Homo sapiens: one gene and its partners. The protein of the gene in region 1 interacts with the protein of each later gene in a pairwise test. Each region holds a gene or a part of one and is shown on either strand. Other genes may lie near its edges.

Region 1 (6,351 bases):
ATCGAGATCCTCCGGGAGAAGGGCTTCGACCAGGCGCCCGTGGTGGATGAGGCGGGGTCAGTCTCAGCCCCTGCTCAGAGCTCAGTCCTGGGTTCTGTCTGCCCAGCTCCACCCCGTCAGTGTCACTGGACAGGGCAGCCATGCAGACCCTGCAGCTGGGCTGATAGGCCCGCCTGGGCCGCCTCATACAGACGTTCAGGGCATTGGAGGCCCCTTGCCGGTCCCTGAGCAGCCTGGGGCAGGGCTGCCGTGCTCACTCCAGGCCCTCAGACCTCAGCCCACCCACCCTTTGTGTGCAGGCTGTCCTGGGCCCACCTGGAGGTCAGGGGAGAGATGCCCCGAGGACATGTCTGACAGCAGAAAGCCTTGGCACACATGCCCAGTGACCACTGAGAGCCCCACGTCGCGGAAACCTGACGGCTGGTCACCCTTGACCCTGGCTGAACGGGTCCAAGGACTCTTGGTTTCTTTCTCCCCACCAGGGCCCAGACTGGTTCCTGCCGCGTGTAGGCTCGTGGCAGAGGACTTCCATGTGTGGCCAGAGAGCGCTCCTCCCTGGGGCAGCTGAGCGTGTGCCCCACCGTCCTGGGAGGGGTGAGGTATGAGCGCTGACCCCTGCCTGCCCCCGTCCCACAGGGTAATCCTGGGAATGGTGACGCTTGGGAACATGCTCTCGTCCCTGCTTGCCGGGAAGGTGCAGCCGTCAGACCAAGTTGGCAAAGTCATCTACAAGCAGTTCAAACAGGTACCCAGTCACCTACAGGCAGCTCAAACAGATGCGCAGTCACCTACAGGCAGCTCAAACAGGTGCCCGGTCACCTACACGCAGCTCAAACAGGTGCGCGGTCACCTACAGGCAGCTCAAACAGGTGAGCGGTCACCTACAGGCAGCTCAAACAGGTACCCGGTCACCTACAGGCAGCTCAAACAGGTGCGCGGTCAGCTACAGGCAGCTCAAGCGGGTGCGCGGTCACCTACAGGCAGCTCAAACGGGTGCCCAGTCACCTACAGGCAGCTCAAACGGGTGCCCGGTCACCTACAGGCAGCTCAAACGGGTGCCCGGTCACCTACAGGCAGCTCAAACGGGTGCGCGGTCACCTACAGGCAGCTCAAACGGGTGCCCAGTCACCTACAGGCAGCTCAAACAGGTGCGCGGTCACCTACAGGCAGCTCAAACAGGTGCCCGGTCAGCTACAGGCAGCTCAAACAGGTGCGCGGTCACCTACACGCAGTTCAAACAGGTGCGCAGTCACCTACACGCGGCTCAAACAGGTACTCAGGCACTTCGGGACCCCAGAGGGTGCCAGAGTACTCCAGCCTCGAAGGCGGGACACCGCGCTTCCCGTGTGGGGGTGCTGGGTCCTCGACCCTCAACACCACTTAGGCCGAAGCTGGCTGCACCCCTCAAACCATGAAGCTGAGAAGCACCCACTTTACAAGTGCAGCAGCCGGAGAGGAGGCTCTCATCAGTGCAGGCTCATCCACACCAGCCGTGTTTTGGGGACTTAAGGAGGTCATTCGCGCTCAGAGGCTGTCCCGGGCACCATGCGGCGTCTGCTGGGGTCTTTCTCCTGCCCAGCCTCATTTGCCTGTGCATGCACTTGGTTATCCAACAAGAGCTAGAACATTCTGGGAGAAGCCCACGGTGGCTCCTTGCCGGGCTGGTCAGACTCCGTGGTTGTCCTGAGACACCCACCCTCTGCTGCCCTGAGGGTGGCCCAGGAAAGTTTGTGTGACCTTCCACACGGATCCCCTGGGACATGCAGGTGTGGCTCTTGACACTGGAAAGGCTGAGGGTTCTGCCCAAACCTAGGAGTGAATTCGACTTCTTTCCCATCTCACACACACACCCGAGACGTCACCCGAATCCACGTATTTCCCACGTTCGGCTGCCACTGCCTCCCGGGTGGGCTTTGCAGGACCCACCATCGCATCCCCTCTCACTCCACAGAAAACTCGTGGGGCCATGTTCCCCCTGCCACTGACCACGCTTCCCTTGCAGATCCGCCTCACGGACACGCTGGGCAGGCTCTCGCACATCCTGGAGATGGACCACTTCGCCCTGGTGGTGCACGAGCAGATCCAGTGTGAGTGGGGCCCTGCTCTGTGCGTGGGGTTCTCACTGGGGTCAGGCCACCAAGCCTGGCCTCTGCCATGGGCAGCAGCTGGGCCCCCCATCCCCTGCGGGGTGTTAGGGGAGTGGGTGGTGCCGACCTTCAGTGACACCCAGTCTTTATGCCCGGGCCTCCCACATGCCCTGGGCTGGTGGGCTGTACCTGTGATTCCTGCAGGGACCCCTCATCAGGCCACACTGGGTAGGGCCCTTTGTCCAGCATGCAGAGGCTCAGGAGTCCAGGCCCCTTGCCTCCGGGGAGGCCAGCAGTCTTGGGGATTCTCAGGGACAAGCCCAGAAACATCTAGAAGGGTTTCAAGTCCTGACCCTGGCATTCGGAGGGCTGCTCTGAATGGAAGCCTCATGTGGGTCTCACAGGAGCCACTGATGGGCTGTCCTCAGAGCCCCGCTCCCAGCAAGCTCATGAGGTTTTGCAACTCCTGAGCGCATCCCCGGGCGTCCCCACCACATCCCCACAGGCCAGGAGAGTCGCTCGCAGGTTTTGGGTCATAGATGGCAGCCCTGGGCCTGGGGCCCACAGGAAGAGTTGGGAGGGGCCCTGGAGCCTGGAGCCTGCCCACCCACCAGGCCTGTGTGCAGGGGGTGAGCGCTCGGTGGCTGAGGCTGGTCCGTGAGGGCCCCAAGTCTAACCCCATCTCCCGTCCTTGGCTCTGCAGCGCAGGACCAGGCCTGGGCAGGCGTGGTGGGGGGGCCTGCAGGTAGGTATCACCCACCCCTCAGAATGGCTCTCAGGCTCAGATTCACAGCCTCCCCATGGCAAATGGAGGCCTTCCAGGGTCCTGGACCCACCCCCAAGCTTGGGTAGGAGGGATCCCCCTCTTAATCTCACATTTACTTGTGTTTGAACATCTCAGAAAAAAAAAAAGATGCAAATTCCAATGTCAGGGTCCCCAAATCAAGTCTTCCTGGAGCATGTCCACGCTTGTCACCACCGTCTGTGGCTGCTTTCAAGCACGTCAGGGCTGCGTGCTCATAACAGAGACGGCACAGCCCCCAAGACCTAAAATACCACCAGCTGGCCCTTGTCGGAAAGTCCCCTGGCTGGCCCTAGTCCATTGACTCTGGGCCGAGCTGCCAGGGCCACAGAAGCCTGCGGCACTCAGGGCTCCCAGGGCTCCCTTCTCCAACAGTTGCTGTGCCTCCGTTTCCCCAAAATGCAAGGAGCTGATCTCATCTGTGTTCCCTATCTTTTCCTGGGGCTCTAAGTGGGCCACCCCAAGGGACCTCTGCCTACAAAGAGAGGAGTGACAGCCGTGGCGGAGTTGGGACGGGCTCCGAGGGCTCTTCCTCACCCGCACCTTGCTCACCCCTCTGTGCCTCATGACAGCTGGTGTAGGGTCCTGTGGAGACGCAGGACCAAGAGGATGTGTGGGGAGCGGGGAGAGAGAGGGAACGAGATCTGTGTTAAGGAACTGGATCATGAGATCACGGAGGCTGACAAACCCTGAGATCTGCAGGGTGAGGCGGCAGGCCGGAGACTGGAGAGCCAGCAGTTCAAGCCCCAAGGCAGGAAATTCCACCTTTGGTTCTATTCAGGCCTTCAACTGCTTGGGTGAGGCCCTCCACAGTAGCACACGTTATCTGCCTCTTGACTCTTGTGCTAATCCGGAATCCCCTCACACATGCCCAGAACGACGTGTGACCAATGCCTGGGCTCCCACGGCCCCGTTAATCTGTATTAAAATTAACCATCACAACAGCCCTGTCTGGGTATGTGGCATGGGAGCCTCGGCCAGCATTAACACCGGGTCTACGCTTGCCAGGAGAAAGCAGGAGGGGTGAAGACAGAATCAGGCCAGAGATGGAAGCTGTGTGCTGCCCATGGTGGCAAGGGGTTTTTGTCTGTTTTTAGAGACAGGGTCTTGCTCTGTTGCCGACTGGAGTGCAGTAGTGCCATCATAGCTCGCTGCAGCCTCGACCTGCTGTGCTCAACTGATCCTTCTGCCTCAGTCTCCCAAGTAGCTGGGACCACAAGCGTGTGCCACCATGCTCGACTAATTTATTTTTAAAAATATTCTGTAGAGACAGGGTCTCAATATGTTGCCCAGGCTGGTCCCAGACTTCCGGGCTTAAATGATCCTCCCACCTTGGCCTCCCACAGCGCTGGGATCACAGGTGTGAGCCACTGTGCCCGGCCCTGTAAGCGGGTTTGAATTTCATGCCCACACCGGCTCTGAAGTCATGAGTGCCTCAGGAGCTCAGCCGGTGGGCCAGGGAAGGGTGTGTCCTGACCTGCGGTGGGTGGAGCCTGGCCTGGGGCCCAGGGGACTCACGTGGTGGGTAGAACCTGGCCTGGGGGCTCATGGGGCTCATGTCAGAAGAACACTGGCTTGGCCAGGCACAGTGGCTCACGCCTGTAATCCCAGCACTTTGGGAGCCGAGGCAAGTGGATCACTTGAGGTCAGGAGTTCAAGGCCAGCCTGGCCAACATGGCAAAACCCCATCTCTACTAAAAATACAAAAATTAGCTGGGTGTGGTGATGTGCACCTGAAGTCCCAGATACTCGGGAGTCTGAGGCACGAGAATCACTTGAACCCAGGAGGTGGAGGTTGCAGTGAGCCAAGACTGCACCACTGCACTCCAGCCTAGGGGACAGAGTGAGGCCCTGTCTCAGAAAAAAAAAAAGGAACACAGCCTTCGCCGCTGGGCTCCAGCCACCCTGGGCCCCCATGGTGCACAGGTGCCCCAGGCCCTCAGGAGCCTCCTGCCCCGCAGCAGCCCACCCAGCCTCCCACGGCACCTGCAAACCCACTGCCTCGTTCTCCCCTCAGACCACAGCACCGGGAAGTCCAGTCAGCGGCAGATGGTGTTCGGGGTGGTCACCGCCATTGACTTGCTGAACTTCGTGGCCGCCCAGGAGCGGGACCAGAAGTGAAGTCCGGAGCGCTGGGCGGTGCGGAGCGGGCCCGCCACCCTTGCCCACTTCTCCTTCGCTTTCCTGAGCCCTAAACACACGCGTGATTGGTAACTGCCTGGCCTGGCACCGTTATCCCTGCACACGGCACAGAGCATCCGTCTCCCCTCGTTAACACATGGCTTCCTAAATGGCCCTGTTTACGGCCTATGAGATGAAATATGTGATTTTCTCTAATGTAACTTCCTCTTAGGATGTTTCACCAAGGAAATATTGAGAGAGAAGTCGGCCAGGTAGGATGAACACAGGCAATGACTGCGCAGAGTGGATTAAAGGCAAAAGAGAGAAGAGTCCAGGAAGGGGCGGGGAGAAGCCTGGGTGGCTCAGCATCCTCCACGGGCTGCGCCGTCTGCTCGGGGCTGAGCTGGCGGGAGCAGTTTGCGTGTTTGGGTTTTTTAATTGAGATGAAATTCAAATAACCTAAAAATCAATCACTTGAAAGTGAACAATCAGCGGCATTTAGTACATCCAGAAAGTTGTGTAGGCACCACCTCTGTCACGTTCTGGAACATTCTGTCATCACCCCGTGAAGCAATCATTTCCCCTCCCGTCTTCCTCCTCCCCTGGCAACTGCTGATCGACTTTGTGTCTCTGTTGTCTAAAATAGGTTTTCCCTGTTCTGGACATTTCATATAAATGGAATCACACAATTGTGGCCTCGTGTCTAACTTATTTCACTTTGCATGGTATTTTCAGGCATGTCAGAGCACGTGTACTTGGTTTCTTTTTGTGGCCGAATAATAAGCCATTGTGTGGATAGACCACATTTTGGTTCCTCATTTATCGGTGATGGACACCTGGTTGTTTCTGCTTTTCAGCCCTTGTGAGTAACCTGCTGTGCACCTTCATGGCCGAGTATGTCTGGACACCTCTTTTCACTTTTCTTGGGTGTGTACCCAGGAGTGGCATTGCTGGTTAATGTGGTAACTCCATGTTTAATTTTTTTTTTTTTTTTTTTTTGAGATGGAGTCTTGCTCTGTTGCCAGGCTGGAGTACAATGGCACAATCTCGGCTCACTGCAACCTCCACCTCCTGGGTTCAAGCGATTCTCCTGCCTCAGCCTCCCGAGTAGCCAGGATTACAAGTGTGCACCACTGTGCCTGGCTAATTTTTGTATTTTTGTAGAGACAGGGTTTTACCATGTTGGCCAGGCTGGTCTTGAACTCCTGACCTCAGGTGATCCACCTGCCTCAGCCTCCCAAAGTGCTGGGATGACAGGCGTGAGCCACTGCGCCCGGCGTCCATGTTTATTTTTTGAGGAACCATCAAGCTGTGTTCCATACTGGTCACACCGATTTCCAT
Region 2 (8,131 bases), on another chromosome or scaffold:
CGGTGGAGGTGGTGTACCCTCTCACGTGTTTTTATTCATTCATTCATTCATTCATCAAACATTTGTTGACCACTGTGAAACTGATTGGAACAATTCCTACCGCACGTGATGGAAAACCTCTATGGGCCATTGGCTTAAATAAGAGAGATGCTTCTTCTCCTCTGTTGTGAAACAAGCCTGGAAGTGTGCAGCCCAGGGACCAGGCTCAGGGTCACTGGGACCCAGGCTCCCTCGGCCTTGATGTGTCACCTGAAGCCATCACCTCATGGTCCAAATTCGTTGCCCACCTCCAGCCTTCACGTCCACACTCCAGGCAGCAGGAAGAAGGAATGGAAAAGGACCAAAAAGGGGGCGTACCCATGTAACCCCCTCCACCTGGAGTGTGCTGGACCTCATTCTGTACCCAGTCAGTCCTGCTCACCTGTCAGGTTCAGCTCCCCTAATCCATGCATCTCCTTCCCACGACAATGGGGTGGTTATTTGTACAATAACCATTTGTTGCATACAGTTGGCCCTCCATGTCCACAGTGGGTTGGTTCCAGGAAACCCCTGGCCACGCAAATACCGAAATCCGTGGATGCTCAAGTCCCTTATATAAAATGGCATAGTATTTGCATATAACCTACGCACATCTTCCCATATGCTTTATTTTTAATTTAACTTTTTTATTTTTGAGATGAAGTCTCACTCTGTCACCCAGATGCTGGAGTGCAGTGGCGCCGTTTCGGCTCACTGCAACCTCTGCCTCCCGGGTTCAGTTGTACAAGTGATTCTCCTGCCTCAGCGTCCCGAGTAGCTGGGATTACAGATGTCCGCCACCACATCTGGCTGAGTTTTTGTATATGTAGTAGAGAGAGGGTTTTGGCATGTTGGCCAGGCTGGTCTCGAACTCCTGACCTCAAGTGATCTGCCCGCCTCGGCCTCCCAAAGTGTTGTGATTACAGGCATAAGCCACCGCGATGGCCCTCCCACATGCTTTAAATCATCTCTAGATTACTTATAATACTGAGTATAATGTAAATGCTACATGAATAGTTGTTATACCGTATTGTTTAGGAAATAATGACAAGGAAAAAAGTCTGTACGTATTCGTACAGAGAAACCCATCCTAGGCCTACCTACAAGGACCCAGTCCATAGTGGGTTGAACCCACAGCCAGGGAACTCACAGATACAGAGGGGCCAACTGTAATGGGTCTCCGTGAGGGTCTAACTCCGCAAGGGCAGGGACCCTGCTGCTGATTTCACCACTGCAGCTCCACTGCCAGGCAATGGACGGTTGAGCTCCCGTGCAGTGGGCATGGCCCAGGTGACCCTTGACCCTTGCTTGAGTTCTCAGCTTCAGGGTGGTTTTTCCTGGTGGTGGACAGCGCTTCTAAGGAAGATGGGCTGGCTCGAAGGCAGCGGGGGACATCAGGCTTTCTGCTTGATTTCGATTACTCTAATGGTGACCCACTTTGTCTGCTGCACACTGGGCTGTCTTCAAGATGACAGGTTGACAATGACTGCCATTGGGTCATTACTGAGCAAAGAGCCATTAGCACACTGGCTGTGGTTCCAGCACAGTCTGTGCCGGGAGGCAGGTGTCTGTCATCCCAGGTGTGCTGGCCTCATTTGTCTGAAGGAATCTGCCGACCTCAGGAAACCCCAGCACGCCTTCAGGCCACTGCCTTGCTTGTCTGTAGCCTTCCCATGGTCACCGCACTTCCGGGCCAGGGTCCCAGCCAGGGTTTATACCGAGACCCACTCACCCAGACTAAGCGGGAAGCAAGACGGTGGGTGTCATCCCACGTGGAAAAAGAACTTAGGGACCTGGAGGAATCAGGCATGGGCATGTTTATTTTGAATACATGTGTCTAATTATTCAATGGAGCTTTCTTAAATGAATTCAAAATACATGTGAAGATTTGTTTCCAGTTGCTTAATGTCTTTTTAATAAGGAGGCTCTGACCAGATAACCTACCCTGAAATTTCTTTTTCGTTTGTTTTTTGTTTTTTGTTTTTCGAGACGGAGTCTCGCTCTGTCACCCAGGCTGGAGTGCAGTGGCACGATCTAGGCTCACTGCAAGCTCCGCCTCCTGGGTTCACGCCATTCTCCTGCCTCAGCCTCCCAAATAGCTGGGACCACAGGCGCCTGCCACCACTCCCGGCTAATTTTTTGTATTTTTGGTAGAGACGGGGTTTCACCATGTTAGCCAGGATGGTCTCGATCTCCTGACCTTGTGATCCACCCGCCTTGGCCTCCCAAAGTGCTGGGATTACAGGCATGAGCCACCGCACCCGGCCTGAAATTTATTTTTCTTTTTTTCCTTTCTCTTTCCTCACTTTCCTTCCTTCTCTTTTCTTCTTCTCCTTCTCCTCCTCGTCCTCCTCCTTCTTCTTCTTCTTTCTTCTTCTTCCCTTCTCTCTCTCTCTCTCTCTCTCTCCCTCCCTCCCTCCTTCTTTCTTTCTTGACAGAGACTTGCTCTGTTGCCTATGCTGGAGTGCAGGCTTGATCGTGGCTCACTGTAGCCTCAACCTCCTGGGCTCAGGTGATCCTCCCACCTCAGCCTCCTGAGCTGAGTAGCTGGGACTACAGGCACGTGCCATCATGCTTGGCTGATTTTTAAAAAATATTTATTTATTTATTTTTAGTAGAGATGAGGCCTTGCTATGTTGCCCCAGCTGGTCTTGGACTCCAGGGCTCAAGTGATCTATCTACTCACCTCAGCCTCCCAAAATGCTGGGATTACAAGCGTGAGCCACTGCGCCCAGTCTGAAGTTTCTTTGAAAGCAAAAAAGGAAACAAAAAGAGTACATAGGCCCAAATGAAGACAGCTGAAAGTTTAATGTACCTCAAATTCCAGCCCATGACTAAGGGATGGACTTTGAGTCTCTTTTCGAATCCATCTCAAGGATTTAGGTTTAGAGTTTGTGCTCCTTTAAACAGACTAAGAGCCTCTGTGACAAAGTAAATAGAGAAAATAAGTGTAGTCAAGCTCTGGCAGGATTTGGAAGGGGGCCTAACGTGGAAGAAAGGAGAAGGCTGGAATTGACTAAGATGTGCTATGCACTGGGCTGGATTTGTTCTCAGCAGAAAGCAAGAAAGAGCTCTGGGATGGTAGCAGGGCTCCCACTACCACCGGGGGCCAAAGGTTGCAGTATTTCTCAGGTAGCCAAGAGGCACCCATGAGCCCAGCCCCTGCCCACTCCCTGATGTCATCTAGACACAAGGACATGGGGCATGAGAGGACATCATTGTCACTTCTCTGCAGAGTCACAGGAACGTGCCCTCTGCTCCTCCGCCTCTCGGCTGTCCTTCTGCCCACGGCTGGCCCAGACTCTCATGGCGACTCACTGTCTCCCACGCCCCCACTCCCGGCAGGAAACCACTTCAGGGTTTACTGTGGGCTCCGAAATCAGCCTGTGAGTCCTAGTTAGGGTCCCCTGTGCCTGACTCTCCTCTCCCCAGGCTGCAAGAAATAGGGATGACCAGAAGTCAAACTGTGCCCTTGGGAACACCCCACCCCTCACCACTGTCGTGCCAGGAGTCTGTTCCTAAGACCCCTCCCCAAGTCCTGTCTCCTCCTCTTCCTCCCATAAACCACAGCAGACACTCAGCCACCAGGCTGCAGCCCTGCACCTTCTCCAGCAGCCGCTGGCCTTCGCCAGAGTTCTTGAAAGCCCAGTTGTCCTTCCCCAGCCACGTGGAGGCAGACGGATCTCTCCTGGGGGCAGCCTGTAGCTGTCTGTGCAAAGGTTCCCAAGACTAAAGTGTAGAGGACAGGTAAGATGACACTGTCATGATCATCATTCGTCCTGTGCCCTGTGGACATCAACCCACAGATGTGACATCAACCCATCTGATATTGAGCCCAGTGGGTGGGGAGATCCTAACCCAGCTGCTGCTGTTGAGGACTTGGGTGGTGTCTGGCCAGTGGGAGGGGAGGTCAGGCGAGTTTTCAGCAGATGACCCCGTGCTCTTCGGAAGCCCGGAGGTGCCACACTGTACAAGTGTGATGCCTGGGATCCTGTGCTCCCCTGATGCCTGGGAATGGGGTGAAGGAACAGCCTAGGCTTGGGTTCTCTCCTGGGTTGTTTCGGGACTTGGCCCCAGCTCAGGAAGGGTTTGTGGAGGAGCCAAGGAGGGCCTTGTTCCTGTGGGATGTCTTTGCCTTGGGCACAAGGACAGCCTCTTGCTGCTGCTCTGCCCACCGCCCACCCCTTGGCGGCCTCTGGGAGTCTGGGCTGCTCTCCCTCTGGACCTAACCAGTTGCCCAATGGCTGGACCTGCTTAAAGCTCCCTCTTACAACTGGACCAGGCAGCCAGGGGAGGCACTGAGAGGCCGAGCTTCTGAGCTGGTGCCTGTGGATGCTCGACGGTCCCGCAGCTCCCACAATGGGATGGCCAAGCAGACCCTGAGATCCACAGCCCCCCTTTAGTGAAACAGGAGGGAGGTCGCTGGGCACAGGGAGCCGGGAACGCCTGCCCTCCCCGCCATCGACGGCTCCCGAGGCCTGAACCTTCGCTCCAGCCCCAGCACAAGCCGGCCAGGGCGCAGGGCCAAGTGTTGCCCGCCATTCCCCGGGTACCCCATGACCTCCCAGCTGGGGCTGGCTCGGACTGAGGAGTCGTCCCTGCCCGTCACCCTCTGGGGTCTCCAGTGCTGCGGAGCTCAGCTGGCTTTTGCAGCGGTAGGGGCTGGGAGGAGAAGCTGCAGGGAGACCGCAGGCGTGGGACGTTGTGGGGGGTCAGGCTTGCTCTGGGGCTGGGACCCCGGGGGGAGCAGTGGGGTTGACGCCACAGCGATGACTTGGGCCACGGGTCTGGGGGCTCTCCCGCGGGGCGATTGGGCTCTGTCTTTCGGGATTAGGGTCTCTCCCACAGGGTTTGGGGTTCTCTCTGCAGATTTGGGGGAGTCTCTCCCGCGGGATGAGGGGGGGCTCTCCGCCGCACCCGCCTATGATGGCCCAGAGGACCCGAGCTCGGGTCACTCCCGTCGCCCTCGGGGCTCGGCGAGGGTGCAGGAGGCGGGCGCTGAGCCGGTGACGCGACTCCGGGCGGCTCCCGGGTGCGCCGCATATATAGCAGCGGCGGCGGTGGCGGCGGCCACACCGGGCGGCGGACACGTGGAGGGACCCGGCCCGCGCCTTCTGCCCCTGCTGCCGGCCGCGCCATGCGGTGAGCGCCCCAGGCCGCCAGAGCCCACCCGACCCGGCCCGACGCCCGGACCTGCCGCCCAGACCCGCCACCGCACCCGGACCCCGACGCTCCGAACCCGGGCGCAGCCGCAGCTCAAGGTACTACTGGCGCCGGGCCGACCCTGCGCCCCCGGGAGGCCTCCCCTTCGGCTTTCCTCTGCCCAGGGACGGTTCTGCCAGGGCCCTGGCCCGGCCGCCGCCTCTGCTCCTCCCCGCAGCCCCGGCACTCCTTGCCTCGGGGCGCAGCCCACTCCGGGTTCCGACCCGCCCGCCCTGTCCTTCCCTTCCAGATGGCCCGAGGCAGCGCCCTCCTGCTCGCCTCCCTCCTCCTCGCCGCGGCCCTTTCTGCCTCTGCGGGGCTCTGGTCGCCGGTAAGTGCGGGGCGCGTCTCCTCCGAGCGAAGGGGACATCAGAGCCGGCCGGGCGTGGAGGGCTTCCTGGAGGAGGCAGCCTCCGCCCTGCCCGCGGGGATGGGGGTGGAAAGTGGAAAGGCGGGCGCTGTCCTGGCTGCGGGCGTCGCGGGAAGGGTCCGGGGCTCCCTGGGATTCCCCCCGCGCGCTTCTCCGAGTGTATCAACAGCCCCGGGCTATAACCAGGCCGCCGGGAGAGCTCTGCGCTTCGGGTCAGCGCCTCGGGAAAGCGAGAAGCTCGCCCGTTCCGCAGGGCTTAGTTAGAATGGAGGGCTAGGAGCCACTGGCGTGGCCTCAGCGTCACTAAAGCAGGTGCAGTGCGCTGAGAGTGCGCGGGCTCAGGCCCTCAAGTGAAGTATTTCGTAAATAAAGTGGTTCCATTTTCATGTCAAATATAGCCGACTTAGGGGTAAACCTGGAATTTCGCGAGCTATCCAAAAGCACATGCATTGTTCTAAGTCCTCTGCCATGCCGGGAAAGCCTGGGTGCACCCATTCAGCATAGGCTCCAGGCACAGCCCTGGCATCTGATCCCCTTTTCTCCCTTCAAGGCCAAGGAAAAACGAGGCTGGACCCTGAACAGCGCGGGCTACCTGCTGGGCCCACGTAAGTGACTGACAGCATGGCCTCCCCACTCCTGACCCCACCTGCCCCTCGCTTTGAACCCTGGCTCCTGCCCCTCCGCCTGCGGCTGGGCAGACCCTCTGGCCTCCCTCTTGACCTCATTGCCCGTCTCCATTGCTCTGCACACTTGATCTGTGTACGGTTCTTTCCAGAAGCTTCTCCTGCCCCGGCTCTGCCGCCCTGTCCCGGGGTGAGATTCCCACCCTGGGCTTTGCTCAAGTTCTCCTGGGCTTTCCCGCCTTGCAGTCCTTACAGGCCCTGTTCTGGGCCTCTCCCCAGGCCCCCGGGTCTCCCAAAACACTCAACTCCTCGGCTTGCAGAGCACCCTAGGTCAGCGGACCCCAAATCCTGCCTCCCTCTTCCCTTTCTCCAAGCTCCACACGGGAATTGCCAGATCGCCTGAAGGCAGCCCAGACAGGCTCCCCTCAAAACAAGGTTCAGGTGACCCTGCCTGCCCAAGCCTGTGTCCCCTCCCTCTCCCTGTCCTGTTGTTGTCACCTGTGTCAGCGGTGTCCCCTGCTGCCTGAGGTGAGCCCTAGCCCTAGATGGGACACTGCAGGCTGACACCTCCCCGTGTCCGCCCCCGCCCCTGTCCCAGGCCTCTACTTTCTCCACATCCTTGGTCTGTGCAGCAATGCCTTCTGACTTTCCTCCAAAGGAGGGGACAAGAGGAGGCCTTGGTTCCCTCCTGTAACTCACCTTCCCCTCCACACCTCACCATCCACCTTAAAAGCCTCCCTGTACTGCCTTCTGCCAGAGGAAGGATGTGAACAGCACGCAGGGCCTATCTGAGCCCCGCGGAGCAGCAAATGGGGAGAATGGTGCTCTTCTCCCCATGCCAAGGAAAGCTGACTTAGTTCTCAGTCCCAGAGTCGAATACAGCTTCCTCCTCCTGCAGACGCTTGTTTATCGGGGTCACTCAGAGGACCCCCAGAGTCAGGCTTTAAGAAACAGACACGGGGATGACAGAGCCGCCTGAGGCCGCGTGCGGATCGGTCCAGGCTGTTCACCACAGAGCCTGCTGGTCTCTGTGCGGCCCTCTCATCCTCTCCCTGCCCATGGAGTGGCCTGACCTGCCTGAGGGTCGGCTGATTTCCTCAACCCTTTGCAACCCTGAGCTCTGCCACTCAGAGGGCACCTCATCTTTGTGTGCTACGGGCCCAAAACAAAGGCAGAACTGGTCAATGAGAACATTTATCTGTGTTGCTTTGGAATATTGAAAATCTATTTGTCAAGAAGAGTTTGACCCCTAATTAGAAAACAAACTCATTTTCGCCATCAATTTTACGGCCCTGTTCAGCTGTAGCTAGACGAGTTGTTTGTCAAAATACTTAAAAATGTGCCTTTGATTTCTAGGATCTGCTAGAAATGCAGCAAAAGCAATGTTTTTGCACCAGCTGCTGCTGAACGCAGTGTGGCCGTGGCTGAGGGTGCATCAGTGACATGAGGCGACCTATGATTCCTCTATAAATTTAGCACCAAGAACGGCATCTCTGGAAATACGCGTTAATTCTCCTTTGTCTGGCCTTGTAGATGGCACAGTCCACCCAGGCCAACCAGCTGGAAACACAGAGGCGTCCTCACCCTCGTCCCCATCTCTCATTTCCATTTCCTTTCCTGCACAGCCCCAAATCCAGCCCTCCTCTTCACCCCACGCCTCTTGGTTTACAGCCTTCATCGTTTCTTCCCTGGAATTCTGGGATCTCTGTGCTTGCAATCACAGTTCCTCCATTTTCGCACCACGAAACACACCCACACACACACGGGAACGCACACACGCTCCTGCACCCCCCACCCCCATCCTGTCTCCCTCTGTGACCCTCTCGCTCCCTCTGTCTCTCTCCTTCTCTCTCTCTGGCTCCAGTCCATCTTGCACACAGCTGCCAGAGTGAAAATAAAAATCAGATTCAGTCACAAC
Region 3 (7,206 bases), about 36 Mb from region 1:
TCCCGGGAACTATGGCAGGATGGGCCACAGACTCAGGCAACATTGTTCTTGAAGAGTGAGAGCCCTCATTGTTTTGTAGAGAAAGAAAAAGAGACAGAGAGAGTGGACATGACTTGATTAAGGTCATGCCACTCATCAGGGACACAGAAAAAAATCACATCTTCTGACGTCAAGTCCACAATCCTTTCCACTAAACCCCAATGGTAGCCTTGGTCTCCAGGCCAGGGCTGGTGTTTGGAGAGAAGGGAATTTTGATGATTCTGAATATGAGTCTAAATAATCTTTCCCTGGAGAGGCCAAGGAGAGAGCACTAAGCTCATACTGAAAATACAGAAATAAGTCACGTAGGACTTGTGTGTCTCCCACTCAAGGCTGGGGTGGGGAGGCCCTGACTCCCTGTGTGCACCAGCCTCCAACCCCGTCACAGTCACCCACTCAGGCTTGATGCTTGGCACACCCTTCTGGGGCACTTTCCCAGGCTGTTGGCATATAGCTAAGCATTTTAAAAACCACATAATGAGAACAAGGCTATTCCCGCCTAAAGAGAAGACCAAAGCTGGTCCGGAAGCTTTCTAATGGCTTACATTTTTGAAGGATGTAGTGGCTCACGAAGGAGGCTCTAGTTAAATTGCTCAGCCTCAGGTTAGGGCCATGTCCAGGCACCTGGCTGAAAATCCAGAAGCGGGAAACGGAAGTGCCTGGGTGAGGACAGGTGCAGCCACTGAGCCCGGAAGAAAGCCCACCCAGCCATCCCACCATTGCTGCTGGGCTCTGCTCCCCTGGAACCCACCCACTGCATCCATGTGCCGGGGGCTAGTCCCTGCCACAGAGGGCTCACTCACTGTGAATCCAGCCCTGTGTTTGCAACTGGCCAGGGCTGCCCACCTGCTAAGAGAGATGCTTCCGTGGCGAAGGTCATGGCGAATTCCCGGATGACGTCTGCGGGGCTGCCACTGACGAAGAAGCCGAGGTAGCTGATGGAGGAGTGGAGAGCCAGAGGCACGGCCGTGGGGAAGGAGCCCAGGAGCCTGTCTCCAGCTCTCTTCAGCGCCTCGTACAGGCATTCCACCTTCTGGTCTTCACACTAAGGGGACAGAGACAGAGCCTGTGTTTCCACACCTCTCATCAGAAGTCATCTATTAATTTAATTAATAACAATCAGGCAGCAATTAAAGTGAGATTCTTTTCTGTTCAAAGCGCTGTAACATAATTTATTGCGTCCCTTTGTGTCTGGGGTTATGGATTTGTTCTATACCTGGACCTCGGTTTTTTCAAATATTTCAGGTAAGTTTCTTTGCAGGTTGGAGTCTCCTTTAGGTGCCCAGGTTGGAAATCCCCTGGTCGTTGAACTGCATCCCCTCCCTCCATGGCACGTGCTCATCACCTGCCAGGCCCTTTCCTCAGTCCCATGGCACACTGCTTTGCTCAGGTTTGCATGATTTGGCTTCTGGAGGTTTCTAGCAGACTCCAAGGCTGCCCAGGCACTGCTCAGAGCCTGTAGTGAGCGGGACTCAGCTGCACTTCCAGCTGCGGGGCCACCCTCTCTTCCACGGCTGAGCACTGAGTCGGGTTCCACAGGGACTCCTCTAAGGCACTGAGGCTCTGCCTGCCTCCAACCCTCTCCTCCTCTTTTGCCTTCACCAGCAGTCTCTCCCCTGTGCGTCTCCTGCACTGGGAATTCTGCCTTGGGGTCTGCTCCCTGGAGGACCTGAGCCTGCACAGCCCCTGGCCCGGCCTCCCTGATGCCCCCTGAGTGGCTGCAGGACCCTCTTTCTGATGCAGCTCCCACCCCTGAGGCCGCAGGCTCTCTGTCACCTGGAGAATCCCTCAGGCCCACGGAGCCCGACAGGTGCTGGCCCGACAGCCTTGCCCACGGGGCTCCCACCCCCATCCTCCAGCCAGACGCAGCCTCTCCTGACATCTGGGCTCGGTGTTGCCTACCGCCCTGGGGAGGCTGCTTCCTGGGCTTGAAAACCTTCCCAGTGCCATTGGCCACATCGGACCACAGGGGAAACCCAGACACCACACCCTCCTGGCGGGAGTTGGCCTGATCCCTTCTCTTCCCAGCACCGGGCTGCCCTCGGAATTTCCCACAGTGCTTCTTACAAGCCCAAGTATGAGGCCAGATCACAGTGTTTAATGCAGCTTCCGTCTCCCCATGGACAGGCCGGCCTGACATTCCTCCCTGTCTGTTTTCTCTGCAACCCTCAACGGCACTCAACACAAAACCACCCAGTGAACACATGTCCATTCCTGAATCCGTCTCACATTGTGTTTCTTGGCCTCAGATATGTAATTTTCAAGAATAGTCATGTTATAAGTGTAGCTGTGATCAATATCACACTTCGGAAGATTAGTGTTTTCATTTTACAGCATCAAGGTACACAGTGAGTCTCCGTTACACTCTTCTGCCTGTGAGGGGAGCTCCACTAACCACGGCCAGGCCAGAACTGGGGTGGGGGACTGGGAGGAGCTAACGACAGAGGGAGGTGTGTGAGTGTGTTTGTGTCTGCATATGTCTATATGTGTGTGTGTCTGTGTGTGTGTCTGCATATGCGTATGTCTATGTGTGTCTGTGTGTCTGCGTATGTCTATATGTGTGTCTGTGTGTATGCATGTGTGTATCTGTGTGCATATGTGTGCATGTGGTGCTTATGTGTGTGTCTGTATGTGTGCATTTGTCTATGTATGTGCATGTATGTGCATGTCTGTGTTTGTGCATGTGTGTCTATCTAATGTGTGTCTCTGTGTGTGTCTGTGTGTGTCTATGTGCATGTATCTGTGTATTCCTGTGTGTGTATATCTGTGTGTATCTGTTTGCATGTGTACCTATGTACATGTAGTGTGTATGTGTGTCTATCTGTGTGTGTCTGTGTATGTCTGTATCCATGTATGCATGTATATATGTGTGTGTCTGTGTGTCTATATCTATGTATGTCTGTATGCAGGTATGTGTGTGTATCTGTGTGTGCTGTGTACGTCTCTGTGTCTATCTGTGTGTGTCTGTGTGTATCTGTGTCTCTGTGTGTGTCTGTATGCATGTATGTGTGTGTATCTGTGTGTGCCGTGTGTACGTCTCCATGTCTGTGTGTGTCTGTGTGTCTATATCTATGTATGTCTGTATGCATGTATGTGTGTGTATCTGTGTGTGCCGTGTGTACGTCTCTGTGTCTATCTGTGTGTGTCTGTGTGTCTATATCTATGTATGTCTGTATGCATGTATGTGTGTGTATCTGTGTGCATGTGTAAGTCTCTGTGTCAATCTGTGTGTGTCTATGTGTGTGAGCTATGTGTGTGTCTCTGTGTCTATCTGTGTGTGTGTGTGTGTGCTTGCACCTCAGTGGGCTGGGGAAGGAGTGGGGGGCCAAGGCCTGCTCTGATTTCTGAGCTGTGTCACATGGCTTGGGCTGCCTTGCCTTTCCCCGTTGGCTCCAGAGGGTGAACCAGAAGGGAGTCAGCTTGTCACAAGTACCATTGATGTCGATGTAGGGGGAAAACTCTCTCGATTTTTCTGGGGCTTTTCCAGGTTTAGTCTTGTGCTCTGGGGATCCCTGCAAGTCTCGGGCAATCCGGGGTGGTGGTTGGAGGCTTTGGAAGGTACTGCTTCTCCTGGGACATCTTCCAGAAATCTTTTCCCTTCAGAGGTTTGCATTCCTCCTTTCCATCCAGCACCGAGGGGCCTGGTGTTGGAATGGAGGGTTCCTTGGGCCCTGATGGAATTCCTTGAAATGGGTGGAACAAATCAGTTTGCCAACAGCAGAGTTGGGGCCAGGCCGCGGTAGCAGAAGTGGGTGTGCCCTTCCTTAAGCCCCTCTGGCGGAGCTGAGTAGAGCAGTGGCTGTCTGTCTCTCCCTTCTCCTTCTTTTCTCCTGAGCAGCTCCCACATTCTTCTTGTCTTCCCGGTGCCCCTGTAGAGCTGCCTGCTGGGCCATTGTGTTTTGCTGTGGAGCTACCCACTGGGCCATTTTTTTTCTGAATCAGACGGCTGGTCCCTGAGACAGGGAAAAGTTCTGCATTTGTGGGTAGCCAACAATCACCCATCCTTGAGTTGACTTACCACACATTTTGGAAGCACAAACTCTGTTTTAGGGGCTGTGCTAGTTTCTGGGGGTGCAAAGATGAGTGAGGTATCTGCCTTCCCTTGAGGGACTCGGTCTGGTGAGGGATGCGGTGCTGCACCAGACACATGGCCCGTATGATACAAAAGTGCCACTAGACACATGAACGAGAAAATGGGCAGCAACTCCTTTTGCCTGGGGAGCTGGAGAAGACTCAAAAAGGGGAGAGGATAAATGAGTTGGGTTCTGAAGGATTAATAGGAGTTGACCAGATGAAGGCAAAGAGGAAAATAAAGGACAGCTCATATGAAGGTGCCAGCTAATGATGCAGTTCTGGACTATCCCATTTAAATAAGTCAACTTTGTCCCATCATGGCCTAGTTAGCACAGAAAAATGCCTCCAGCTGCCGTGAGCATTGAAGGCACACTGGGTTGACTCACCGTGAAGAAGTCACAGAGTGTCACGTGTGGGAAGACCTCATGAGCTCTGTTCTTTGCACACTGGCGCTTGCTCTCTCTCCAGAACTCTTGAAGTTTTTCCAGCAGGGGCCCCGTTGGACAGAGGAAAAGGGCATACTCCTGGGGGATGGGGTCGTCTAGGGAAGGGTCATTGCAATGATCATGCAGCCTGCAACAGAGAGCAAGCCGGCATCACCCACTGTCACAACAAAAAGAGTTTTCCCCTTTGAGGATACACAACAGAATGACAATGACAGCAATGCAGAATTATAGGGCACACTGAAGACATCATATATGCTCATGACATAAATTAATCTCACAGCCATCCTACTGGTGGGAGGCACTGCGGCACAGCTGTGTGTGGCACAGACCTGGTCAGTGTAAGTCCTGCTCTCAGACCCACCTTAGTCTGATTCCAAAGTCAAAGGTAGAAAAAATGAAAGAAAGTTGACAGCAAGACCTAAAACCTGGTCTTCCAATGATCCGTGGGCCCAGCATCTCCTTGATGGTGTGGGAAAATTTTGTGGAAAAACCTCACATTTGTATTTTACCTCAAACTTCAAATTACATATAAAAACCAAAACCAAAAACCTAGACAAAATTTAGGTAGCTGCTGCGTTTCTTTAGATTCAGACAGTTTTTATTTTATTTTATTTTATTTTATTTTATTTTATTTTATTTTATTTTATTTTATTTTATTTTATTTTTGAGATGGAGTCTTTCTCTGTCACCCAGGCTGGAGTGCAGTGGCACAATCTCAGCTCACTGCAACCTCCACCTCTCCGGTTCAAGCAATTTTCCTGCCTCAGCCTCCTGACTGGCTGGGATTTCAGGCAGACAGTTATTTTAAATTAAAGGAAAAACGACGGATGACCCAACATAGGAGTTCATTGTCACTAACAATAAAAATGGAAATAAAATAGCTCCGAGACGGCATTTTTCTCATCTGTCAAGTTCACAAAGATTTTTTCAATAAAAAGGATAAAAGTTCTGCTCAATGTGTAAAAGATGCAGCAGGACTTAAGGACAGACCTTTCAACTTTTATGTGAAGCAATTTGCCAATAGGTATTGAGAGTCTTAAAATGCCCACACTCTTTGCATTAATAATTCTACTTCCAGAAATTTCTCCCGAGGAAAGAGCACAAAGTACTGTATAGGCAAAACTTTGCACATGAACCATCTATTTAGGGCTATTTAGAAGAAAGTTAGAAGGTTATTTAGGGTTATTTAGAAGAAAGAAGAAAAACTCCATAACTGATAGCAAATCTATTTACCGTGCATTCATTAGAAATCATGGTTTGGAAGAATTTCTAATTACTCAGCAAAGTGCCTGTGATATAATTTTCAATTTAGAAAGTAGTATTCAATCACTAGAGGAAACAGAACTTACGCAAGACCATATTCTCTTCAATAAAAATCACAGAAGAAGTTGCCACTCCTCTCCATCGTGGTTCCCACCCTCCCCCTTTCCAGGGTTCACCCAGAGGGTGAAGCTGCTTTGCCTTCTCCCAGAAATTTAAGTAACGGACTTATAGATAGCACTTGTTTTACATAAATCATAAGCTGTTATTCAAATTATTCTACAACTGGCATTTTTCCTCTACCATGTCTTTTCAATTAATCCCTGTTGATACACACGTGTCTAGTGAAGTTTGTCAGCGCGAATTTGTTAAAGGCTGTGTAATAGTTCATGTATACATATACAATGTTGCACTTGTTCATTCCCGCATTGATGAACATCTAAATTATTTTATTTTAAAACCATTTCATAACCCTGCAATCAAGATCTTTGTACATGTCTCTTTAGGCTCCTTGCATTTCTCCAGGGAATCTGCTTAGACGCACGACGGAGGCTGGTGGGCTGTGCATATTGCCAAGGTTGGCAGATACCCAGCACTGCCTTCCTCAGTGACACCAGTGACGTGTGAGGCCCTGCTTCCCTCACCCTCATCAACACTTGGAGTTACCTTGTTTGCTCTAATGATATCTTAATTTGCACCACCTCCCTGGTTACTAGTGAGAGGTTGGGGTGCTCTTGACAGTCTAGGGGACCCCATTGCCTCCCTATTTTTTGGTGGGGTTCCTAGTCTTATTGACTGGGTTGCAGTGGGCAGGTGCTGGCCATGCCCTTCACAGCAGTGGGCTTGTTTCTGATCCAAAATTGGCAACTGGCTTTAGTGGACTCTGTGAAGGGGTTGCCCATTTTGCCCGTGGCCTACACTTTCTGGAGGAGGAGGGGGCATCCCATTGGGAACACTGCACGTTCAGAGACCCAGGATCAGTATCTGCCCTCCTGCTTTGGAGAGGACACTCCAGCCTCCCAGGACCTGGTTTTTATTGTTTGATTTTCCCCGTGGCTATCTCAGGGCAGAGGATGAAGGACTCCCCACAGCACATCCGGGTAGGAGAGGGTTTTAGAGAAACGGTGGCCCTCCTCTCCATCCCCAGAGCAGAGAACAGGCCCATGGCAGTGGGTGGCTTGAAGAATCACTCACGCAGCTGGTACCTGGTGAGGTCACCTCAAATCAGAGCCCTCACCCGACCCACACACCTGGCACCCTTAGACCCACACACCTGGCTTCATGACCACCAGTAAACTCCCTTCCCCTCAGAGGCAGCCCGAGAGCATGGTGGCCGCTAGTCTCTATCAGCAAAGATGTCAATTATGTCTCAAATCTTTCCATCAAT
Region 4 (7,206 bases), on another chromosome or scaffold:
ATCCCCCCTCTGATATGGTGAAACAGGCAGAAAGTTAAAAGTCACGGCCAGGCTCGGTGGCGCATACCTGTAATCCCAGCACTTTGGGAGGCCGAGGCGGGTGGATCACGAGGTCAGGAGTTTAAGACCAGCCTGGCCAACATAGTGAAACCCCGTCTCTACTAAAAATACAAAAAAAAACTTAGCTGGGCGTGGTGGCAGGCATCTGTAGTCCCAGCTACTTGGGAGGCTGAGGCAGGAGAATCGCTTGAACCCCGGAGGCGGAGATTACAGTGAGCCAAGATCGCATCACTGCACTCCAGCCTGGGAGACACAGCGAGACTCTGCCCACCCGCCCAAAAAAAAAGTCACATATGCAGTTGTGTTTGACTCTCTTATGTTGGTATCTGTATCTCTAGTTAGCTCTATGTTTCTTTCCTCCCTCTGTAACTTAGTCTTGGGCATATCTGTTCATATCAGTGTGCATCATTCTTTGAGAATTAAAAAACAAAACAACTGTGAATTATATGCAAAACCCTGTGCTTGGTGGTATGGGAGATACAAAGTATAAGATAGTTCTAGGTTTCCAGGAATTTATAATCTGTTTGGATAGATAATGAACAAAATAACTGTAGCACAGTACAGTATATATCATATGATGGGTAAATTCTACAGAAGTAGCTGTTTTTGTGCCTTTGTGTAGATCTTTGTGAGACTCTGATATATCATGTGTCTATCTTTATCACAGCCCTCTCTCCCACTTATAAGTGATGAGGCTGTTGTTCTGATAGTCTTGCCAAAATGGCAGGCCAAGCTGACAGTCTTATGCAGTCCAGTGGGAAGAGGGAGATTATCCCCCTTACTCCCTGCACTCTCCCCTAGCCCATTAAGGGAGAAAAGTTTAGGGCTGTCTTAAACTTCCCTGGTTTAGGAAGTTTGTCAGCCAACCTCCCAGGTTGAAGTTTTTAATGTCATGTTACTACAGAAGCTATGGGGATGAAGTATGGTTTTATTTTGGAGATATCACCCAGAGAAAATGGAGCCAAGACTGTTGATGCTAGCAGATGAAAATTGTTGTGATCCCTTCTGGGTTCCTAAATAACAATGGCATTTCCAAATGTTCCCACTTGAGGGAGCACAGAAATGGTTCTAAGTTTTGTCTAGTCAAAGCACTCTCTAATCTCAGACTATCTTGGGAAGGGAAACTTGGAAAACCAGCATCCCCTGGCTATAGCAGCCTTTGACTCACAAGGGTGCTGAGTGGACTCAAGTTCCCAGTTTCAGTACATTCGTGTTCCTTATCCACCTCTCAGTCATTCAGGTTTTGACTGGCTGACAGTCAGCTACTGGGATCCTCCCCAGTTGTGGCTCTCTCTCTGCCATGGAGCTAGACAATGGTGGAACCAGTGTCTGTGGTTCTAGTGCCTACAACTATGCCTAGTGAGTGTCTGTGTTTGGGGAAGACAATGCTGTCTCTCTGGCTTCCATGTTTTAATAAAGTAGATCTGTGAGAATCTTGTAGGGGTTAGCCCTAAGCTCAGATCTTTAGTCTTAGCTTTTAGGACCTAGTGTTTCATTAGGCAGTATAGTGTACAAGAACATGAGCTTTGCAGATAATGCTCGTTCAGCTCAGAAGTGGATAGAAGCATTTCTGGAAGGCACAATATTGTAGCAGTATTGGTTTCTTCTCTTCTGTGATTCCAGAGAGGTAGAATTTCATCAGAATGGAGTAAATACATTCAAAAATTTTATAAAAATGGCCGGGCGTGGTGGCTCATGCCTGTAATCCCAGCACTTTGTGAGGCTGAGGCGGGCAGATCAGTTGAGGTCAGGAGTTTGAGACCAGCCTGGCCAACATGGTAAAACCCCATCTCTGTTATAAATATGAAAATTAGGTGGGTGTGGTGGTGCACGCCTGTAATTCCAGCTCTCAGGAGGCTGAGGCACGGGAATTGCTTGAACCCAGGAGGAGGCAGTTGCAGTGAGCCAAGATCACGCCACTGCACTCCAGCCTGGGCAACAGAGCAAGACTCTGCCTCAAAACAAAACAAACAAAAAAATTTACAAAAATGAACACTGCCAAGATAAACCCAACCAAACTCTTCATCAGTTATAAGAAATTATTTTGTTAGGTATACGTAGTTTTTTAAAAATTTGTTTTTTCAAGTATGTTATTTATTAAAATTTTGATGTAAACAAAAGCAAACCACAAGCTCTGGAACCAGAAGATAGGTGTTTGAATGCCTACTCCACCCCTTATCAGCCATGTGACCTTGGGCAAGTTGCTTAATGTCTCTTGACCCTCAGAGACAATCTGTGAAAATAAGGCTAATAATAGTATTTACCTCAGGGTTGTTATGAAGATTAAATGAGATCATATTTCTGAAGAGCCTTATAAGGCTGGGTGCAGTAACTCGTGCCTGTAATCGTAGTGCTTTGAGAGGCCAAGGAGGGCAATCACTTGAGCCCAGGAGTTCAAGACCAGCCTGGGCAACATGGCAAAACTCCATCTCTACTAAAAATACAAAAATTAGCTGGGTATAGTGGCTTGCACCTGTAGTCCCAGCTACTCAGGAGGCTGAGGTGAGAGAGGATCACCTGACCCCGAGGAGGTCAAGGCTGAAGTGAGCTGTGATCACACCACTGCACTGCAGCCTGGGTGACAGAGCGAGACCTTGTCTCAAAAACAAAAAAAAAAGGGTTTGGCGGGGGCAGTGGCTTTATAGTGCTTTAAAGAAAGTCATTATTTGTTCACCAGCCCTTCCCCTAATGTTGCTAGGCTAAAATGGATGGAACCAGGTTAAGCTGAATCTGTTTTCTTATCTCTCCAGGTCATTTCTTCAGATAGCTCCCCAGCTGTGGAAAATGAGCATCCTCAAGGTAAGTTTACTGAAGAAAGGAAACTGGGCATGAAAACAATAGCCTGACCCTAACAATGTCTTCAACAATGCTTTTGAATCTCTCCCCTGGAAAAATCAAAGCAGGGCCAGATAATGTGCCAAACCACAAAAATCAGTGACAGTAGTTTGGCAAGATCACCCAGGAATAAATCTTGGGCAGAGTGGGGATGATTAATATCTTCAATTATCAAACCACTTGAGAGAAACATCTGAGGTACAGGCAAAACTTCCATAGGCAACTCTGGGCTGGCTACCATGTTTTAGAAGTCCTGGGTATTTTCTGCATAGTCCAGAAACAGTGCTACCAGGATTTTATCACCCAGCAAGCTCACTAAAGCCACTGAATGTACACCAAAAATTATGCAAAGGGCTTGGTGCAGTGGCTTACACCTGTAATCCCAGCACTTTGGGAGGCCGAGGCAGGTGGATCACTTGAGCTCAGGAGTTTGAGACCAGCCTGACCAACCTGGTGAAACCCTGTCTCTACTAAAAATACAAAATCAGCCAGGTGTGGTGGCGCATGCCTGTAATCCCAGCTACTTGGGAGGCTGAAGCACAATTGCCTGAACCAGGGAGGCAGAAATTGCAGTGAGCCAAGATCGTGCCATTGCACTCCAGCCTGGGCAACAAGAGTGAAACTTCGTCTCAGAAAAAAAAAAAAAAGAAAGAAAAAAATTAGGAAAAGGCTCTTAGAACTAATCTAGTAATAGAAGCACTAAACCTCTAAAATCCAGAGCACAGGGAAGACAGTTCCAATGCTGGCCAGTGCCTATTTTATGTTTCTGAGTACATTTGCATTAGCACCAAGGCAGAAACTAGAAACTCAAATTGCCTACATGGACCAAGCAGTGAAGTGAACTACATATGAAAAGAAGGCGACAGCTGGGCCGGGCATGGTGATTCATGACTGTATTCCCAGCACTTTGGGAGGCCAAGGTGGGTGGATCACCTAAGGTCAGAAGTTGAAGACCAGCCTGGCCAACATCGTGAAATCTTGTCTCTACTAAAAATAAAAAATTAGCTGGGCGTGGAGCTGCATGCCTGTAATCCCAGCTACTCGGGAGGCTGAGGCAGGAGAATTTTTAGAACCTGGGAGGCAGAGGTTGCAGTGAGCCGAGACTGTGCCACTACACCCCAGCCTGGGCGACAGCACAAGACTCTGTCTCAAAAAACTAAAGGCAGCTGGGTGTGGTGGCTCACGCCTGTAATCCCACCACATTGGGAGGCCAAGGCAGGTGGATCACCTGAGGTCACAAGTTACAGACCAGTCTGATCAACATGGTGGAACCCCATCTCTACTAAGTAGAAAAAATTAGCTGGGCTTGATGGTGGGCGCCTATAATCCCAGCTGCTTGGGAGGCTGAGGCAGGAGAATCACAGAATCGCTTGAACCTGGGAGGCAGATTTTGTTGCAGTGAGCCGAGATCATGCCATTGTACTCCAGCCTGGGCAACAAAAGTGAAACTCCGTCTCAAAAAAAAAAAAAGGCGACAACTATCTAGGTCTGGTCAACTAAGACCTATTTTTGCCAGATCTTCAAGTCTGGGCACAGTGTAACACCAGCACTTTGAGAGGCCAAGGCAGGAGGATCACTTGAGCTCAGGAGTTCGAAACCAGCCTGGATAACTTAGTGAGACCCTGTCTCTACAAAAAATTAAAAATTTTTTGCACTCCAGCCTGGGCAGAGAGTGAGATCCTGTCTCAATTATAAACAAACAAACACTGAGAAAGCCAAATCCAATATGTTTATGGGCCTGTGGCCTGAATGATAGTATTTAACTATCAATGTAGTGTATGTATCTTCAACTGGTGTCCAAAGACATGTTCTTGGGAGTCTGAATTCTCAAGTTTGAATAACAATGGTAGGCTTCCAGTTAAAGACGGTAGATTGGTAGATTGGGCTGCGCGTAGTGGCTCATGCTTGTAATCCCAGCACTTTGGGAGGCTGAGGCGGGTGGATCACTTGAGAACAAGAGTTTGAGACCAGCCTGGCCAACATGGTGAAACCCCGTCTCTACTAAAAATATAAAAATTAGCCAGGCATGGTGACATGTGCCGTAATCCCAGCTACTTGGGAGGCTGAGGCATGAGAATCGCTTGAACTCAGGAGGAGGAGGTTGCAGTGAGTGGAGATCGCACCACTGCACTCCAGCTTGGGTGACAGAGCAAGACTCTGTCTCAAAAAAAAAAAAAGGTGGTACATTGAATATATATTCCCAAAAACTCCCCTAAAACCACCATAAAGGAATTTTTTTAAAGAAAAAGACACAAACACACCATAGGGAAAACAGGAGAGGAGATAATAGCAATGAATTTTTGGAAGCTGAAAAGCAGACAAAAGAGTGATGAATGACTTAGACCTGAGAAAACTGAATTATAACTAGCAGTGAGGAAAGCCAAGAAGCATTGAAGGTCTAAGAAACAGTCAGATCCCAAGACACCCTACCCCATTGAGTACAGTGGGCAACTCTGCCTCCCAACTGTGGCAGAGACTGGAAATCTGGCAAGGGACTCGGGCACAGCTTAGGGCTGAAGTACTGCACTGAAAACAGGAGCATGTAGTGAACTATACTCGATGCTGAGCCTCCAGCCCTTTCCCCCTTTTCAGTTTCCAGAGCGCTGGCAGAAGAGCCTTCACCCTCCAAGCATGAAATTGAATAATCCTTCTCTCCAGAATCCTCTTGAAGGGAAGTCCTAAAATATATAAGTATTGAATGTTCCCTATCCAAATGACTCACTGTCAGCAAGGCTCACTTACACACTTAGAGCTTCCACTCAGCTTTAAAGCCTCCACTCTTAAGTTATGGTTTAAGTTCTCCTTTAAACTAGGGATTACCAAACATCTAAAGAAAGGATCTGTGAAAAAAAGTGATCCAAACTGCCCCCCACCCCACTCTGGAATGTACCTTTGTTTTACTCTGAAGGCTGTATCTCCCTGGTAAAAAATAAATAAAAATGAAAAAGCAAACTGCCTCTCCCAACCTCATGTACACACAGAAGAAACAAACAGGAAAAAAGCAACTGGAAGGAAAAGATGAGAAGAAAACTTTAATAACATTAATATAATCTTAGATAAAGGAACATATTTCTCAATACCTGTGAAAGTAGTATATCTTTAAAGAAAACAACAGCCGGGCACGGTGGCTCACGCCTGTAATCCCAGCACTTTGGGAGGCCGAGGCAGGCAGATCACCTGAGGTCAGGAGTTTGAGACCAGCCTGCCCAATATGATGAAACCCTGTCTGTACTAAAAATACAAAAATTAGCTGGGCATGGTGGCATGTACCTGTAATCCCAGATACTCGGGAGGCTGAGACAGGAGAATCGCTTGAACCCAGGAGGTGGAGGTTGCTGTGAGCCGAGATTGCACCATTGCACTCCAGCCTGGGCAACAAGAGTGAAACTCTGTCTCAAAAAAACAAAAACAACAACAACAAAAAACCTTATTTCCACCATGAAACAAGTATAGGATACAATTTTTTAAAGAAGGAATTTTCAGAAAACAAAAAGGAACTCTTGGAAATTAAAAATATAGTAGCAAAAATTTAAACCCAGCTGGAGGTTTCAAAAATCAACATGAGGAAATTTCCCAGAAAGGAGAGTTAAAAATCAACAAAGTAGAAAATAGGAGAGAAGGTGCAGTGGCTCATACCTGTAATCCCAGCACTTTGGGAGACTGAGGCGGGAGGCCAGGAGTTCAAGACCAGCTCAGCAACACAGCAAGACCCTGTCTCTACAAAAAAATAAAAATTAGCCAGGCATAGTGGCATACACTTGTAGTCCCAGCTACTCAGGAGGCTGAGATAGGAGAATTGCTTGAGCCCAGAAGGTCAAGGCTGCAGGTGAGCCATGATCTCGCCATTGTACTCCAGCCTGGGTAACAGAATGAAAGCCTGTCTCTTTAAAAAAAAAAAAAAAAAAGGAGAGGAAAGATTCCAACAACCCACAAAACAAACAAACATTTAAAGGATCAGTCTAGGAGGTCCAGTATCTAAATAGGAGTCATAGAAAAAGAAAAATGGCAACACAGAGGGAAGGAAATAATTGAGGAACTAATTCAAGAACATTTATTGGAACTTGAGGACATTAGTTTTCATATTGAAAGGACCCATCGAATATTCAGCACAATGGATGAAAGTGACCCACCCAAAGCACAGTCATCCTGAGATTTCAGAACACTGGAAACAGAGATCCTATGAGTTTTCAGAGAGAGGAAAAAAAAGTCACATACAAAAAGTCAGAATTGCCTTGGACTCTCAACAACACCAGCAGCTAGCAGGCAATGGAGCAATGCCTTCAACATTCTGCAGGAAAACACATTCCAAGC

What was found.
Region 2: the proteins of cystathionine beta-synthase (region 1) and GAL interact in binary tests that used the Homo sapiens proteins (3 or more experiments, as listed by UniProt).
Region 3: the proteins of cystathionine beta-synthase (region 1) and UBASH3A interact in binary tests that used the Homo sapiens proteins (3 or more experiments, as listed by UniProt).
Region 4: the proteins of cystathionine beta-synthase (region 1) and PRKAG1 interact in binary tests that used the Homo sapiens proteins (3 or more experiments, as listed by UniProt).

Annotation. Positions count from the first base shown.
Region 1 is NC_000021.9:6,444,217-6,450,567, reverse strand, and holds the end of cystathionine beta-synthase, read left to right. Parts: coding exon 1-56; intron 57-482; exon of another isoform or gene 483-599; intron 600-636; coding exon 637-745; intron 746-2,002; coding exon 2,003-2,087; intron 2,088-2,790; coding exon of another isoform or gene 2,791-2,832; intron 2,833-4,906; coding exon 4,907-5,010; 3' UTR 5,011-5,699; downstream 5,700-6,351. UniProt on the Homo sapiens protein: Hydro-lyase catalyzing the first step of the transsulfuration pathway, where the hydroxyl group of L-serine is displaced by L-homocysteine in a beta-replacement reaction to form L-cystathionine, the precursor of L-cysteine.
Region 2 is NC_000011.10:68,679,454-68,687,584, forward strand, and holds the start of GAL (galanin peptides preproprotein), read left to right. Parts: upstream 1-5,090; 5' UTR 5,091-5,279; intron 5,280-5,470; coding exon 5,471-5,551; intron 5,552-6,140; coding exon 6,141-6,195; intron 6,196-8,131. UniProt on the Homo sapiens protein: Endocrine hormone of the central and peripheral nervous systems that binds and activates the G protein-coupled receptors GALR1, GALR2, and GALR3.
Region 3 is NC_000021.9:42,406,902-42,414,107, reverse strand, and holds part of UBASH3A (ubiquitin-associated and SH3 domain-containing protein A), read right to left. Parts: intron 4,687-7,206; coding exon 4,500-4,686; intron 1,085-4,499; coding exon 886-1,084; intron 699-885; coding exon 585-698; intron 550-584; exon of another isoform or gene 1-549. UniProt on the Homo sapiens protein: Interferes with CBL-mediated down-regulation and degradation of receptor-type tyrosine kinases. Promotes accumulation of activated target receptors, such as T-cell receptors, EGFR and PDGFRB, on the cell surface.
Region 4 is NC_000012.12:49,008,715-49,015,920, reverse strand, and holds part of PRKAG1 (5'-AMP-activated protein kinase subunit gamma-1), read left to right. Parts: intron 1-2,810; coding exon 2,811-2,859; intron 2,860-6,531; exon of another isoform or gene 6,532-6,612; intron 6,613-7,206. UniProt on the Homo sapiens protein: AMP/ATP-binding subunit of AMP-activated protein kinase (AMPK), an energy sensor protein kinase that plays a key role in regulating cellular energy metabolism.